Linked DNA regions of Homo sapiens. The protein of the gene in region 1 interacts with the protein of each later gene in a pairwise test. Each region holds a gene or a part of one and is shown on either strand. Other genes may lie near its edges.

Region 1 (3,277 bases):
CTACTTGGTACCTTTTTTTTTTTTTTTTTTTTTTTTGAGACAGTCTCACTCTGTTGCCAGGTTGGAGTTCAGTGGCGTGATCTTGGCTCACTGCAACCTCCACCTCCCAGGTTCAGGTGATTCTCCTGCCTCAGCCTCCCGAGTAGCTGGGATTACAGGGATTACAGGCACATGCTACCATGCCCAGCTTATTTTTGTATTTTTAGTAGAGACGGGGTTTTACCATGTTGACCAGGCTGGTCTTGAACTCCTGGCCTGGCCTTAGGTGATCTGCCCGCCATGGCCTCCCAAAGTGCTGGGATTACAGGTGTGAGCCACCGTGCCTGGGCAGGAACCTTAATTTAAGGTTTTTTTTTTTTTTTTTTTTTGACATGGAGTCTCACTCTGTTGCCCAGGCTGGAGTGCAGTGGCGCCATCTCAGCTCACTGCAAGCTCCGCCTCCTGGGTTCACACCATTCTCCTGCCTCAGCCTCCCGAGTAGCTGGGACTACAGGCGCCCGCCACCATGCCCAGCTAATTTTTTGTATTTTTAGTAGAGATGGGGTTTCACCATGTTAGCCAGGATGGTCTCGATCTCCTGACCTCGTGATCCACCCGCCTCAGCCTCCCAAAGTGCTGGGATTACAGGCGTGAGCCACTGTGCCTGGCCTTTATTTTTTATTTTTAGTAGAGACGTCTTGCCATGTTGCCCAGGCAGCTTCTTGAACTCCTGAGCTCAAGTGATCCTCTTGCTTTGGCCTCCCAAAGTGCTGGGATTACAGGTGTGAAATAGCGTGCCAGCTCAGGTCCTTTGAGTGATAAGAGCAGAGACTTGGGTCTCCTCCTGGCCCCAAAATCCAGGCTCCCTGTCCACAGACCCCAGGCTGTTTACCCGCGGGCCCCAGGCTTCAAACAACTCAGGCACTAGCACTTGCCAGCAAGCTCAGGCCATCTGAGATAGGCATTTGGTACCCAGGTACCTCTTTGCCATACCCAAGAATTCAGGAACCAGCCCCCAAACCTAATCACCCTCACGCCACATGACCCTCCCCCAGGATCAAAGCACGGTGGGGTGGGGGGGGCCCTCACCTCATCATCTGACGCCAATCACTCTGTCCCCAGGCCACACCCCACTCCACGTGGCCGTTATCCACAAAGATGTGGAGATGGTCCGGCTGCTCCGAGATGCTGGAGCTGACCTTGACAAACCGGTGAGCCCCAACCTCGGGGAAGATGCCGTCGGCGGGAGGGGGCTTGTCCCCTCTTCGGGCCCTCTGACCTTTCTGTTGCACCCCCACAGGAGCCCACGTGCGGCCGGAGCCCCCTTCATTTGGCAGTGGAGGCCCAGGCAGCCGATGTGCTGGAGCTTCTCCTGAGGGCAGGCGCGAACCCTGCTGCCCGCATGTACGGTGGCCGCACCCCACTCGGCAGTGCCATGCTCCGGCCCAACCCCATCCTCGCCCGCCTCCTCCGTGCACACGGAGCCCCTGAGCCCGAGGGCGAGGACGAGAAATCCGGCCCCTGCAGCAGCAGTAGCGACAGCGACAGCGGAGACGAGGGCGTGAGTCAGGAGGAGAGACAGGGCAGCCCAGCTGGGGGGTCAGGATAGACCGGCAGGCAAGAAGCCCAAGAAGATAATTAGGCACCGACCTTGGGCTGCTGTTAGAGAACTCAGGCAGCAGCGCCAGTGACACGGGGCACTAGTCAGGAGAGACCTGGACAGGGGTGGTGGGAAGAGCTTGGGCAGAAGTGGCTGAAAAACTAAGGCAGTGGCAAAGGTAGAACTCAGGCAGGGGTGGAGAAAAGGCGTTGGTCGCAGTGATTGGTGAACACAGCGGGGGTGGGTGGTAGCGCTGGGGGTGATTTTAGGCAGCAAGAATTGGAGAACTCACACTGCGAAAAGAAAACCTTGGGTGGCAGTGATTTGAACACCGGCAGTGCTGGGGCAGGACCCGAGCCAGCGGTGGGGAGAGATATAGTCAGAGAACCCAGCAATACAGATCCGTCCTTGGGCAAGGCGCGGTGCTGGATGATGGGTGCGGAGGAATTTGGGTAAAGGCAGAGGGAAGGGGTGGAGGAGGGCCAGCTCAGTTGCCGAAACTCTGGAGTGGCGGCTGGCTAGAAATTGGTCTGTAGAAATGACCTTGAAAATGGAGTTCTGGCCAGGTGCGGTGGCTCACGCCTGTAATCCCAGCACTTTGGGAGGCCGAGGCAGGCAGATCACGAGGTCAGGAGTTCGAGACCAGCCTGGCCAACATGGCAAGACCCTGTCTCTACTAAAAATACAAAAATTAGCTGGGCGTGGTGGCGCATGCCTATAATCCCAGCTACTTGGGAGGCTGAGGTAGGAGAATTGCTTGAACCTGGGAGGTGGAGGTTGCAGTGAACCTAGATCACGCCACTGCATTCCAGCCTGGGCAACAGAGCGAGACTCCATCTTAAAAAAAAAAAAAAAAAAAAGAAAGAAAAGAAAATGGAGTTCTGAGAGCTAGGAAACTGGGAGGTTGAGCCAGGAGCAGGGGAACTTGGGCTTTGAGGCGAGACCTAATTCTTAGGGTGCTCTATGAGGACATGGGTGGTGGGCAAAGTGACAGCCGCCTGAGCCCCTCTGCCTGGTCCCCTTTGCCCCCAGGATGAATACGACGACATTGTGGTTCACAGCAGCCGCAGCCAAACCCGGCTGCCTCCCACCCCAGCCTCAAAACCTCTTCCTGACGACCCCCGCCCCGTGTGATTTGTTTCATTGTTAATATAATTTCCAGTTTAATAAACAAAACCCTAGTTCTGACAACCAGAGACCAGACTGATCTTGTCTTCCCAGTCCTCCGGGTCCTTCTGGGGCCCATCCCTGTCACATCAAGTGCTGCTCACGGAGGCAGGGTGCGTTTCTTTGTGCTTTATTCACTCAGAAGGGTTGGAGTGGGAGTGCATAGGTGTGGGGGTGCTTCCTGTGTCAGGGCTGAGCCCAGCCCCCGGCCCAGCTCAGACTCACCTCCTTGGGTGTGGTTCCAAGGCACGTCCGCCTCCTCCCCTGTTTGGGTAGGGGTGGCGTGGGGTGCTAGGTGAGGTGGAGGCTTCGGGGTCAACAGTCCTAAGCCACAGGGTGTGTCAGGAGGAAGGAGGGACTGAGGTAGGGGTCAGCCCTCCCTCCTGAGCTGCTCCCCCAGCGTCTCTGTCACCTTCTTCAGTTCGTCTCTCAAGTGCTCCAGCTGCTCCACCTCCTTTTCCTGGTGGGGTCAGAAACGGGGTAGTCAGCACCCACCTTCAAAGGCAGGCCACCTCGGTCACTGTGATTGTG
Region 2 (4,186 bases), on another chromosome or scaffold:
TTCCCACAGCTTAGCACCCCCATCATACACACACTCGAGCACAAACACACACTCTCACAGACACAGATACACACAGACACAAGTGTGGGCATGAGTGCATGCACACACACATACTACACACTCATATAGGGGAGGGAGGCTTCTGGGTCCCAGGGCCGCAGGGGCAGGGAAGTCTGGTGAGTGTGTCTGCATGCGTGTATGTCTGTGTGTGCCTGGGTTTGCATGAGTGTGAAGGCATGTGTCTGCATCTGGGTGCTTGTGTGCTTGTGTCTGGGTGCATGCATGTTTCTGTCTGTGTTCATTTAGAGGCATGCGTATGTGTTGTTACATATATCGTGTGGGGATCTATGCATTTGTGTCTGCGTATATCTGCTTATAGTATGTGCTTGCATGCATGTGTGTGGTTGTTGCAGTATGTGTCTATGAGTTCACTTATATTTACATGTCTGCATGTGTTTGTGAACTGTGTCATGTATCTTTATATGTATGGCCCCTCTTGGGCCCTTGAGCATGGCCCAAGCACCTTCTAGCTTTGACTGATGTTCAGCAACCCCCATCCCATAACCTGAGGAGCCCAGCACCGTCTGGGCATGGTGTGTCAGTGAATTCTCTGCCTCAACCCCCCTCAGGGTCCCAGTCTCTGGCAAGAGTTGGGGTAGATAGACATAAGCACAATTCACTTTCCCTTCACAGGCAGCAAAGGACATTAGCCACACTTCCTGAACCCCAGGGGGCCAGGCCACCAAAGGTCTCAGGGTTCACTCCCTTCCCTAGCCCCTTGGGAAGGTAGCCTGGAAATGCAGCCAGATCTCGGACCGGTGCAACACGTATTAGCCCATGCATGATGCAACATATTCGAGACAGAGTCCTACAAAATGTTCCCAGCGACTAAGACACAACCCCACAGAAACCCGGTTACAGCCAGTGACACATGAGCACACACTCAGAAATCCAAATGGAAAATCCCCAGGCCAGAGAGCTTAGCACCCTCCCTACTTTCTGGGCTCAAACTCAGTCTTGCCCCACCCCTAAGCACCCCAGCTCAGCTGCCAGTTCTGGAAAACACTGACCTCAGAGAATGGTTGAAGGGCCGAAGGTAGTATGCCTTTCTCAGAATCTCACCCTTCTCCATGTTCTCCTCCTTTAGGCTGTTCCCCATCCCCCTCCTGACCTTCACTTTTCTTACCAGGGCTGATGTCCTCTCCGGCACACCCATACCCTCACAAACGCTCCTTGACACTCACAGTCAGTCACAGAGGCACATTAAATCACAAAGGCACATTCAGCCACATCTACTGATACTCCTATTCTCCCGGCCTCAGACACACACACCAGCAGCTACACCTACACGCTGACCATCACAGGCACACAGAGGCACATCCACCTCACATCCACCTCATACTTGTGTACTCTCAGGGTTCAGTCTTTCATCCTATCCCTCTCTGATCTGTGCCTCCCAATACCTTCCAAGATGTTTACAGAGACCCTTCTCCCTGTGCAGTTAGGAGTGTAAGGCAAGAGAGCCCCTACTTCATGGGGCAGATCAAGAGCTGAGACCAAAGATGGTCTATGTTGCTGACCTTGTCCTGTCCTCCTGCTGTCTTAAACTATGATCCCTGCTGCGGTCACTGAAGCCTTTCCCTGTAAGTATTCAGCCATAACCCTCCCCTCACGCCCTGCATAGTCAGCTGGTTAACACCTCTGTGTGGAATAAGGCAGTTTGAGCAGAATGACTGTATTTGTTGTTCACCACCCACACGGCCCCTAGGAGATGCAGGTCCAGGGCAAACCAAGCTTCTGGGCTAGCTTCTGGGCACTTCTAGAGGATCAGAAAAATCCCAGGTTGCCTGAGATGTCTGAGAACTGAGGAGAGGAAGGAGAGGGAAGAGTTTGAGGAAGGAAGCAGTTCTGGAAGTTCCCTGCCTCTTGGATTCAGCCCCTCCCCAAACCCTCTGCTTCCAGCCAATCCATCCTCCATTAAGGCTGTCAGCACTTTGGGGTGCCTGCCATCAGGAGTCCCCCATATATGTAGGGGTGCTATTTCACAGAGATCATCCTTTGGCGTGCCTAAACAGAACCAGGTAGGGAAATCTTCACTGGCTCTGGTTTTTTTTTTTTTTTCTTGAGACAGAGTCTAGCTCTGTCACCCAGGCTGGAGTGCAGTGGCGCGATCTTGGCTCACTGCAACCTCTGCCTCCCGGGTTCAAGCAATTCTCCTGCCTCAGCCTCCCAAGTAGCTGGGACTAAAGGCGTGTGCCACCACGCCCGGCTAATTTTTTTTTGTATTTTTAGTAGAGATGGGATTTCACCGTGTTAGCCAGGATGGTCTCGATCTCCTGACCTTGTGATCTGCCCGCCTTGGCCTCCCAAAGTGCCGGGATTACAGGCATGAGCCACCGCACCCAGCCTAGTGGCTCTGTTTTTTAAAACCCCACCCTGGCTCACAGGCCCCCTGGCTAACCTTGAGGTGGGAAGATCCACACTATGGTGGTGTCAGTGTGGGTGTTGTTGATACCCATGGCCCTGGTGGCAGGATTGATGGCTGCACTGCTGGCAGTTCGACCTCGGAGACCCTGTTGATATCTTCTGCGGCTACACTTGAACATCCTGGGAAATCGGGGCCTGGGCCAGCCCATACCTGGCCTGCGGTAGGGGGAACGCATGCCCTGGGGCCGAGGGCCACGGACAAGCCGAGATGGCCCCATGGGCACAGGGAGCTTCTGCAGTGTGCCTGGGGGGTGCTGTTGGCCAGGGTAGCTGAGGCCTCTATGACATACAAAGTCTGCATAAGGGCAGGGCCCTTTATTACAAGTCGTGGGCCCTGGCCCCTCCTCATGGGTCAGGCTCCTTCACAATCTTCTTTATTGGGTCTGGCCTAAAAGCCAGCCCAAGAGCCAGACAGCCTCAGTTTGGCCCCTTGGGAAAAGAGGCCCTAGAGGCGGAACTCACTTCCTCACTTTCTCACTTATCCATATAGTAACAATATTAACAATGTTTTTTGAGCACTTACTACGTGCCAGACACTGTGCTGAGCACTTTACCAACGTTATCTCATTTAATCTCAGCTACTTTACAAGGATATGCCATCATTATACCTATTTATATACAGTCAATTCTCATTATTCCCAGTAATGTTCTATAAAGTCGCCACAAACACTAAATACTGAACAAAGGGTAAATGCAAGGTTAGGTTCCTGAAACCCTCTGGTCACAATATTTTTGTCAACTGATCTATACATATAACCTGATTTTATGTGTGGAGACACCTTATTTAATATATATTGTTGGCCAGGCATGGTGGCTCAAGCCTGTAATCCCAGCACTTTGGGAGGCCGAGGTGGGCAGATCACCTGAGGTCAGGAGTTCAAGACTAGCCTGGTTAACATGGCAAAACCCCATCTCTACTAAAAATACAAAAATTAGCTGGGTGTGGTGGTGGGTGCCTGTAGTCCCAGCTACTCAGGAGGCTGAGACAGGAGAATAGCTTGAACCCAGGAGGTGGAGATTGCAGTGAGCCCAGATTGCACCATTGCACTCCAGCCTGGGCAACAAGAGTGAAACTCTGTCTCAAAAAAAAAAAAAATATATCTATCTATCTATCTATCTATCTATCTAACTATCTATCTATATTTGAGTCATTGACATTGAACTCACAGCCAACAGCATTATAACTTGTGCCTGAATGAAACTTATCTAAAGCACATATTTCCCCTATAAGGCACATCACAGCCTTCTTGCACTTAGAAAGACTAGAGAGCACTTCAGCACTACAACTGGGGACCATTTTAGACAGTAAAATCACCAGCAAAAAACACCAAAAAATGTGAGAATATGCGTCACTAAATAGACCACCAAAAAGCACATTTGTTTACTCTATGAAAACTGAAATAAGAAGACAGAGAGTCCTCTTGCTCAACAGACCTCAGCTGGAAATACGTGTGTTGGACGGCTGAAATTTTTTGCCTTTCTGCTCATGTCCATGAATGACTGCAAAAGTACCACAAGTACTGGTTTGGGAATTACAAATAAATTTCAGTAAGCAGGCAAATTCACAGGTATGGAATCTGTGAATAAGGAGGATCCACTGTATAAGGAAACTGGGGCTCAGTGAGGTGAAGTCACACAATTAGAGGCAGGCAGGAAGCAAATCCATGATGATCAAGATCCAAAACCCAGAGCACTTAAC
Region 3 (3,566 bases), on another chromosome or scaffold:
TGTTTCAAGCAAGAGTTCGAGATCATTAAAACATCATTTAGGTAACTTGCTTTTCAAATGAGCCCTGAGCAATTTGTAAAGGCCAAAAATGACAGCAGACACCATGGAAGCAGCACAAAGATGACTAGGGTTGCTTTGCAAAGCAAGAAAGACAGAAGTTCAGCTTGTGAAAAATCAGATCGCCTATTGCTTTCCAAAAAGCCAACAAGAAAAATTATGATCAACAAGTTTTTATTACATAATACTCTTGATATTCCAAACAATTCAGCACTTTGTAAAAAAAAAAAGAAAAAAGAGAAAACCGGATCATGGTAAGTTTGCTATATTAACATATCACGAAGAAAACTGGAAACCTATTGATCTATGGAATTGACATCTTCGCATGGATGCTCCACGCAGCACGCTTGCTTCCGTCTGGTGAGTGATCATCTTTCGGCCAGGGCTGGAATATTTGGCCTTTCTCTCCTTTGGCTTTGTCACCCAAAAAACACGACCTCAGTGGTGTCAGCTTTGAACATGCTAATCTGCCTGGCACCACCCCATTTTAGAGACTGTCACTTGGAGGCCCTGAATGCTCCTTCCATTCCTCACATGCAGGCTGCTCCATGGTGCTGGATGGATTAGAGTTAAGGGGTCAGCAGGGAATCGTGTTACTCTTTGGCATCTGGCATTTTAAACACCATTCACCACGTCCATTCTGCGCAGGGTCCTTCCCTTCTGGTGCGCCTTCATCTTCCATGGACATTCTATAAGCTGGGTGTGGTGTGAGTTCAGCTGTCTACTCTTTGACAGAGATTGTAAAATCTGACCAAATTCCCCACCAGTGCCAAGGTTTAAGTCCACAAGCAACTGTTTGCACCAGAAGATCATTACTTTTTCAGTAGCAAACCCATTCAATGTTAGGAGTTACTTTCAATTTTTATTTAGAAAGCACCAATCTGTGAAAAATACACCAATAGTAGTTGCTCCTCTTCATTAATTAGCATCTTTTCCAAGCAACTGTTAAATGTGAAAGATCAGATACAAATCATGCTACTTTGTCAACTTTATGTATATTAAAAACTTTACCCAACTTTGAAATATAATCAATACATCTTTGCTAAATAAACAAATTCCATATACTTTATATTAATCATGCCAAACTGCTGTGAAAGTGTGACTTACTGCCTCTTCCACAAAAAGACCACTCATTCTGTTTCTCTGAAGAGCAAGCCATTACAGAATGATAGAATGCTTTTATATCACAAAGGCTGGCAGGGTATAGCTCATATCTGCAATTCCCTTTCCAGGGAAAGAACAGCTGCAAAGCAGCTGACAAAGCAGCCCTGAACATTTCTACATTCCAGGATACAGACAGGCATGAAGTGCCTGTTGAAACTATTCATTAGAGAACCCAGGGCCTAGAGTGAAATGGTCAAGGTTCAAGGACTGAGGTGTGTAACTGACACAGGTCCCTCAATGGGGCACTGGTGCATGTGATCACGTGTTTGTCTGTATAAAAAGCCTCTGTGGCAGTTATTTAGTTAAGGCCTTGAAATCTGAAACTTTATCCTAACACTTTTCATGCCTGGATTTTGTCTGAATGTGTTCTCATGAGCACAAGTTCTTGGTTTCAATTTTTAAAAATGTTAGTACTCTGTATTTAGAGAGATGTCTTCACATAAATTTTAATGACGTTTATCTTAATAAGAACCAGGCTACACTTTTTTATTTGGAAGGAGTATAAGGGAAAATAAAAAGTTATAGACAATTCAATAGTTTCAGAAATCAAAAGCACTTCTAAGAATTGATGAGATAATCAATAAGCAAAAGCAAATAATTTCACTTTGCATTTCTCAAAGAAGCTCAAGACATTTGCTTTCAGAGATAATGAGGCTCTCTCTGGTGATTTCCAAAAATACTAAAAGAAGCATTGTTAGATTTTAAAAGGTGATGTGCAGCAGATTGATTTACAGTGGCAAAATCAGCATGTTTCAGAAATAGTCACCTGGTCAAAATTATTAGTCCAATTAATGGAACAAACTATAATCCACTAAATAAAATATATTCCAAAGAAGGCAAAGAAAATACAGGTCCTGTATGTTATGACAAAGGGGCTCTCGGTCTGTCTCGTTTACAGCTGCACGGCAGCCCTAGACAGGGCTGGGAGACACAGAACAAGTGTCTGTTCGTTTAAGGCTAGCTGATCTTAAGCATTCTTCATTCCCTGCTACTATAGGCATTAGAGCCATTTATTTCAAAAAGTCTCAAAAATGCTCTAGAAGTCAACATCAAAAGAATCCTAGACCAAACCCCAGGCAAAAGTGCACAGCAATTTCCTTCCCTAGTAAACAGAGGGGCATGGGCCCCTTTTTAGTTCTTCCACCTTCCTTTAGGAAGCAGCACTGAAAAGAGTCCAGGCACACATGGAGTGTGCCACGTCCTCAGGTCTTGAAAATGATTTGAAAACCTTACTTCTCAAATGACAGCCTAAAGACATAGATTATATATTTCATTTTGTTTCTGGTTAAGTAAAGTGTCCAAATCTCATTTTAGAGCTGAATGATGAGTGATACCCACAAAGTCATGGGCAAAATTTGCAATTTTTCGAATTCCCTTATTTAGCCATCTCATAAGGAGTTGCATACACAATCCCCCTCCTACTAAGGGTATTCCTTGCTACCATCAACCACACTCCTTTTAGGGATTAATATATTCACACGGTTCTGATTCTCTCAAAAGGTAATGAATGAGAAAATGCTGAGCAAATGAGATTGTTTTTTACCAGTGTGCAGCTCTTCCTAGTACAAATGAAATGTTTTTTCTTATTTTTTGAGCACCTACTCTGTGGCAGGCCCTCCTGTAGGCTCTGGGGATAATACAAGTTAGTAGTAAAAACTGGTGAGCAATAAGGTGGGGATGTGGGATAGGGCTGCCAGGGTGGGAGCAGGGTTTGAATGCTGATAAACATGCCCCTGCCCAGGGCTCTCATTGGCTCTGTCTCCATGGTGTGATCATCCTTCCCTAGCAATGGGAAGAATCACATCCATGGAGCCCCATCCAGGTTTCCAGGAAGCACAGAATAGTCCAAGGGTTATTCTAATGGGCACAAATGCTTAAATAGATGTTAGGTTTCTCCTACCTGGGGAACTTACTCTGGATATATTTCATTTTAAATATCCAAATACATCCTGCTTCAAAAAGACAACTTGGCCCAAAGATTTCTAAGGCTGTTACAATAACTGTTTTTCTTTCCTCGGACCACATCACAGTGCCTGAGATTCTTCCTTGTACTATGGGATTAAAGCGTCAACCGTCCTGGCATTTATTAACATGTTACCTTTTTCTGCATAATTCTCAGCTCGTCACTCAAGTTGTTATTCACCTTCATTAGCTGCTGTATCTTGGCCTCAGAAGCCACTAGAGCGTTTTTGACCTCCATAAATTCCTGTACAGTGACTGGTCCATCTGATAAATCTGAATCTAGGCTCTAAAAATAAATTGGGAAAACGTTCACAATCTGAGATGACGAGAACATTAAAGACTAACAGCTCAAGAATTTCAAATTCTGACCAAGCCAGCTGAAT
Region 4 (3,566 bases), about 35 Mb from region 1:
TGTCTCCATCCTCCTGTCATCACCACCTGACTCTTCTATTGTTTTTTTTTCTGAGACCGAGTCTCGCTCTATCTTCCAGGCTTGAGCGCAGTGGTGTGGTCTCCGCTCACTGCAACTTCCGTCTCCCGGGTTCAAGCAATTCTTCTGCCTCAGCCTCCCAAGTAGCTGGGATTACAGGCCCTCTGCCACCACACCTGGCTCATTTTTGTATTTTTAGTAGAGACGGGGTTTCACCATGTTGGCCGGGCTGGTCTCGGACTCCTGACCTCAGGTGATCCACCCGCCTCGGCCTCCCCAAACGCTGGGATTACAGGCGTGCGCCACCACACCTGGCTGATTTTTGTATTTTTAATGGAGACAGGGTTTTCACCATGTTGGCTGGGCTGGTCTTGAACTCCTGACCTCAAGTGATCCGCCTGCCTCGGCCTCCCAAAGTGCTGGGATTACAGGCGTGAGCCACCGCGCCCGGCCGGTCTCTCTTGTTTCTGTTGATTTCCTTGTTTCTCCTCTGTCTCCCTGATTGGATTGTGAGCCCCGAGAAGGCAGGGGTTGGGTGTGACTTGAGGGCCCCTCCCTGCCTGTCTCGCCCCATGGGGGCAGCGTGGACCCAGCTTAGCCTGGAGCCTCTAGCCTACAAAGCCGGTCACCATATCAGTGGGGTGCCTGTGGCCTAGGTGGCTCCTGAACCCTTGGAATGTGGCCACTCTGAACTGATGTGCGCTGGAAGTGCAAAAGGTACCCCAGCTTTTGAAGACTTGATATGCAAAAGGTGATGTAAAATGGCTCAATGAGGATCGTGCACATTGACTACACATGGAAATGCATCTACTGGGTTAGGTAAAATGTTTCAAGTCACTTTCACCAACTCTCTTTGACTTTTTTTGAACGGGGCTGTCAGAAAATGTAAAAATATGTAAGTGGCTTGCTGGCCGGGCATGGTGGCTCACACCTGTAACCCCAGCGCTTTGGGAGGCTAAGGCGGGCAGATCACCTGAGGTCAGGAGTTCGAGACCAGCCTGGCCAACGTGGTGAAACCCCGTCTCTACTAAAAATACAAAAATTAGCCGGCATGGTGGTGGGCGCCTATAATCCCAGCTACTTGGGAAGCTGAGGCAGGAGAATCGCTTGAACCTGGGAGGTGGAGGTTGCAGTGAGCTGAGATCGTGCCACTGCACTCCAGCCTGGGCGACAGAGCAAGACTCGTCTCAAAAAAAAAAAAAAAAAAAAAAAAAAAAGTAGGTGTCTTGCCTATTCCCATTGAGTGATGCCAATCTATAGTAATAAAGTGTACTCCTTCCTGGGATCCGGAGGGCAGGAGGGAGCCCTGGGTCTCAAGAGCCCTGGCTAGAACCTGACCTACTCCTTGCTGCTGCCTGTTGTGCCCCACATCTGAGCCACCTCGGGTTTCTTCCTTCTCACACTCAATAGACTGAAGACTTCTTTAGTGTGGGGACTGGCAAACTCCTACTCATCCCTCAAAGCCCTACCTTGAATGCCCCTCTACCTTTCCTAATTCCCAAAGACCTGGCTCCCCTCTGGGTTCCTCCAGCCCTAAGTCCCTCCCTCTGGCACCAGCTACAGAGCTGGTGTCCCTAACTTTAACCCCTCCTTGGCTCTGTTGCCCTGAGGGTCAAGGCCTGGCCCTTGGCAACCAGACCCCTACCTTATCTCTAGCCTTGCTGCCCCACTGAAGCCAACAGAACGTGGTAACTTGCTAACAGAACCCTGGCCTAACCAGGTCTGTTACCAGCCTCCAGGCCTCTGGTTTACTGATCACCTTCTGCAAAGCCCACGGCAAGGTCTCCGGGCTGCCTTGCCCAGATCTGGCACAGGGCCGGGGTCACAGAGGGGATGGCAGCCACTAGGTTTTTCTAGAACCGTGCAGAGACTCCCCAGATGAGCCTGGGAGGCCCAGAGAGAGGAAGGGACTTGCCTGGAGCTGCACAGCAGGCCAGAGGGCCACGCAGAGGCGGGGTGGGGGCGGAGGTATCCCTAGTTTCATCACCCCGAGCCCCAGCCTGGGTAATTATAGCCCCGGCCACCACAGGCCCCACTTACTCAACGCCCTGCTGTGACTCAGAGGGGCCTCGGGCTCCCAGGCTTTTGGAGGGTGGAGGTGCTGGTGTCCTGGGGAGGGGGGACCAGAGCACGGGGTGGGGGAAAAGAGGAAGCAGGTGGGTCTAAATTGGGGTGGGAGGAAGAGGTCTCCACAATTGTCCCTCTCTAAGCCTCAGTTTCTCTGACTGAGGGGATCAGCCCCGGGTCGGGTGGGATAGCCAGCAGTGCCCGAGTCAGAATGAAACCGGGCCTGTGGCCTGCGGCCAGGGAGGCAGGGTGGGGGTCACCACCTTCGCTCAGCCTGGTCCCCTCTGCAGACCCCAGTTCTCTGCACCCCACCAAGCTGCTCTTCCTGAGCTCAGAGACGAACCCACAGTGACCCCTGCCTGGAGGAAGAGGAGCCCCCCAAGACCTCCAGTACCCCAACCTCACCAAGGAGGGACAAACCACCAGCTACACTGCCTGCCTCCCAAAGTGCCCTTTGCCCCCTGCCTGGCACTCCTGGGCGCCGGAGTCCAGGCCGCACCTTCCTCTCCTGGCCTGCTGGGGAGGGGGCCGGGGTGCTGGGGAGGGGTCAGTCCCAGTTCCTGTCCCCACGGGGTGGGGTTGGGAAGCTGGGACAATGGCCTCTTTCTTCAGCCTCGGTGGGCGTGGCTGGGGGAACCCCAGGGCGGGCGGGGGGCAGGGGGTGGTGCTGAGTCACCCAGCCTGGCCAGGTCCCTGCCTGCCAGCCCCCTGCCCCCACCGCTACAGCCCGCCCCGGATCTACGAGGCCCAGCCAGCCACCTCTGGACTCCTGAGACCGAATTGCAAACTGCCCGGGCCTGGCCTTGAACTCCTGCTGTTTAGGGACCAAGTCCTGTGGCTCCCAGGGGGGCACAGTGATCTCTCAAGCTGAGCTGGCCTCAGGGCCTCTGCACTGGCTGTTCCCTCTGCCTGGAACGCCCTTTCCCACAGCTGCTCCTCCCCTCCTTCAGGTTCCGGCAAGGCCTGTCCCCGGCGCCTAGAACAGGCCTGGCACCAGCAGACGCTTCATAAATGTTGGCTGATTGAAGCAAATGACCCAGGCTCACGGGAAACTCAGAAGCCGCTCCACGGCCTGGGCTGTCCCTCCCTAAGCCTGAGGGCCTGTCACCCTCTCCCAAAGCAGAAAAAGAAAAAAATCCAAAAGTGCAGAAGAGAAGAACCAGCCCTCCAGGAAGGAAGAACGACTGTGCCTTCCCGCCCACCTCCCGCAGCTCAACCCTGTCCGGCACGCTTTGCATATGATGTGGCTGTCATCTTATGTCTGGCCTGTGCTGTCACCCACCGGGATGTCCACCCACAAGGGCAGGGCCTGGTCTAGGCTGTTCTTAACAGCCACGTGGGTCAGGGAAGCGTTCGTTGGCTTTGGGCCCAAGAGGTGGGGTGTGTCTGTTTGCGTGTGTGTGCATATATGTGTGTCTGTGGGTGCATGTTTGCATGCATGTGCATGTATGTGTGCGCATGTACGTGTCTGTGTGCATGTG

What was found.
Region 2: the proteins of NFKBIB (region 1) and TSPAN1 interact in a two-hybrid assay, tested with the Homo sapiens proteins (one large-scale study listed by BioGRID and IntAct).
Region 3: the proteins of NFKBIB (region 1) and GIT2 interact in a two-hybrid assay, tested with the Homo sapiens proteins (one large-scale study listed by BioGRID and IntAct).
Region 4: the proteins of NFKBIB (region 1) and ZBTB7A interact in a two-hybrid assay, tested with the Homo sapiens proteins (one study listed by BioGRID).

The regions. Positions count from the first base shown.
Region 1 is NC_000019.10:38,906,120-38,909,396, forward strand, and holds the end of NFKBIB (NF-kappa-B inhibitor beta), read left to right. Parts: intron 1-1,101; coding exon 1,102-1,190; intron 1,191-1,279; coding exon 1,280-1,540; coding exon of another isoform or gene 1,541-1,588; exon of another isoform or gene 1,589-2,611; coding exon 2,612-2,713; 3' UTR 2,714-2,770; downstream 2,771-3,277. UniProt on the Homo sapiens protein: Inhibits NF-kappa-B by complexing with and trapping it in the cytoplasm.
Region 2 is NC_000001.11:46,173,767-46,177,952, forward strand, and holds the start of TSPAN1 (tetraspanin-1), read left to right. Parts: upstream 1-1,320; 5' UTR 1,321-1,643; intron 1,644-1,719; exon of another isoform or gene 1,720-1,819; coding exon of another isoform or gene 1,820-1,863; intron 1,864-1,962; exon of another isoform or gene 1,963-2,081; intron 2,082-2,461; coding exon of another isoform or gene 2,462-2,705; exon of another isoform or gene 2,706-2,722; intron 2,723-3,892; exon of another isoform or gene 3,893-4,055; intron 4,056-4,186. Other genes in the region: P3R3URF-PIK3R3 (LOC110117498-PIK3R3 readthrough), read right to left, coding at 2,462-2,705; P3R3URF protein, read right to left, coding at 1,820-1,863, 2,462-2,705. UniProt on the Homo sapiens protein: Structural component of specialized membrane microdomains known as tetraspanin-enriched microdomains (TERMs), which act as platforms for receptor clustering and signaling.
Region 3 is NC_000012.12:109,947,848-109,951,413, forward strand, and holds part of GIT2 (ARF GTPase-activating protein GIT2), read right to left. Parts: intron 3,470-3,566; coding exon 3,320-3,469; intron 1,000-3,319; coding exon of another isoform or gene 976-999; exon of another isoform or gene 1-975. UniProt on the Homo sapiens protein: GTPase-activating protein for ADP ribosylation factor family members, including ARF1.
Region 4 is NC_000019.10:4,049,890-4,053,455, forward strand, and holds part of ZBTB7A (zinc finger and BTB domain-containing protein 7A), read right to left. Parts: intron 1-3,566. UniProt on the Homo sapiens protein: Transcription factor that represses the transcription of a wide range of genes involved in cell proliferation and differentiation.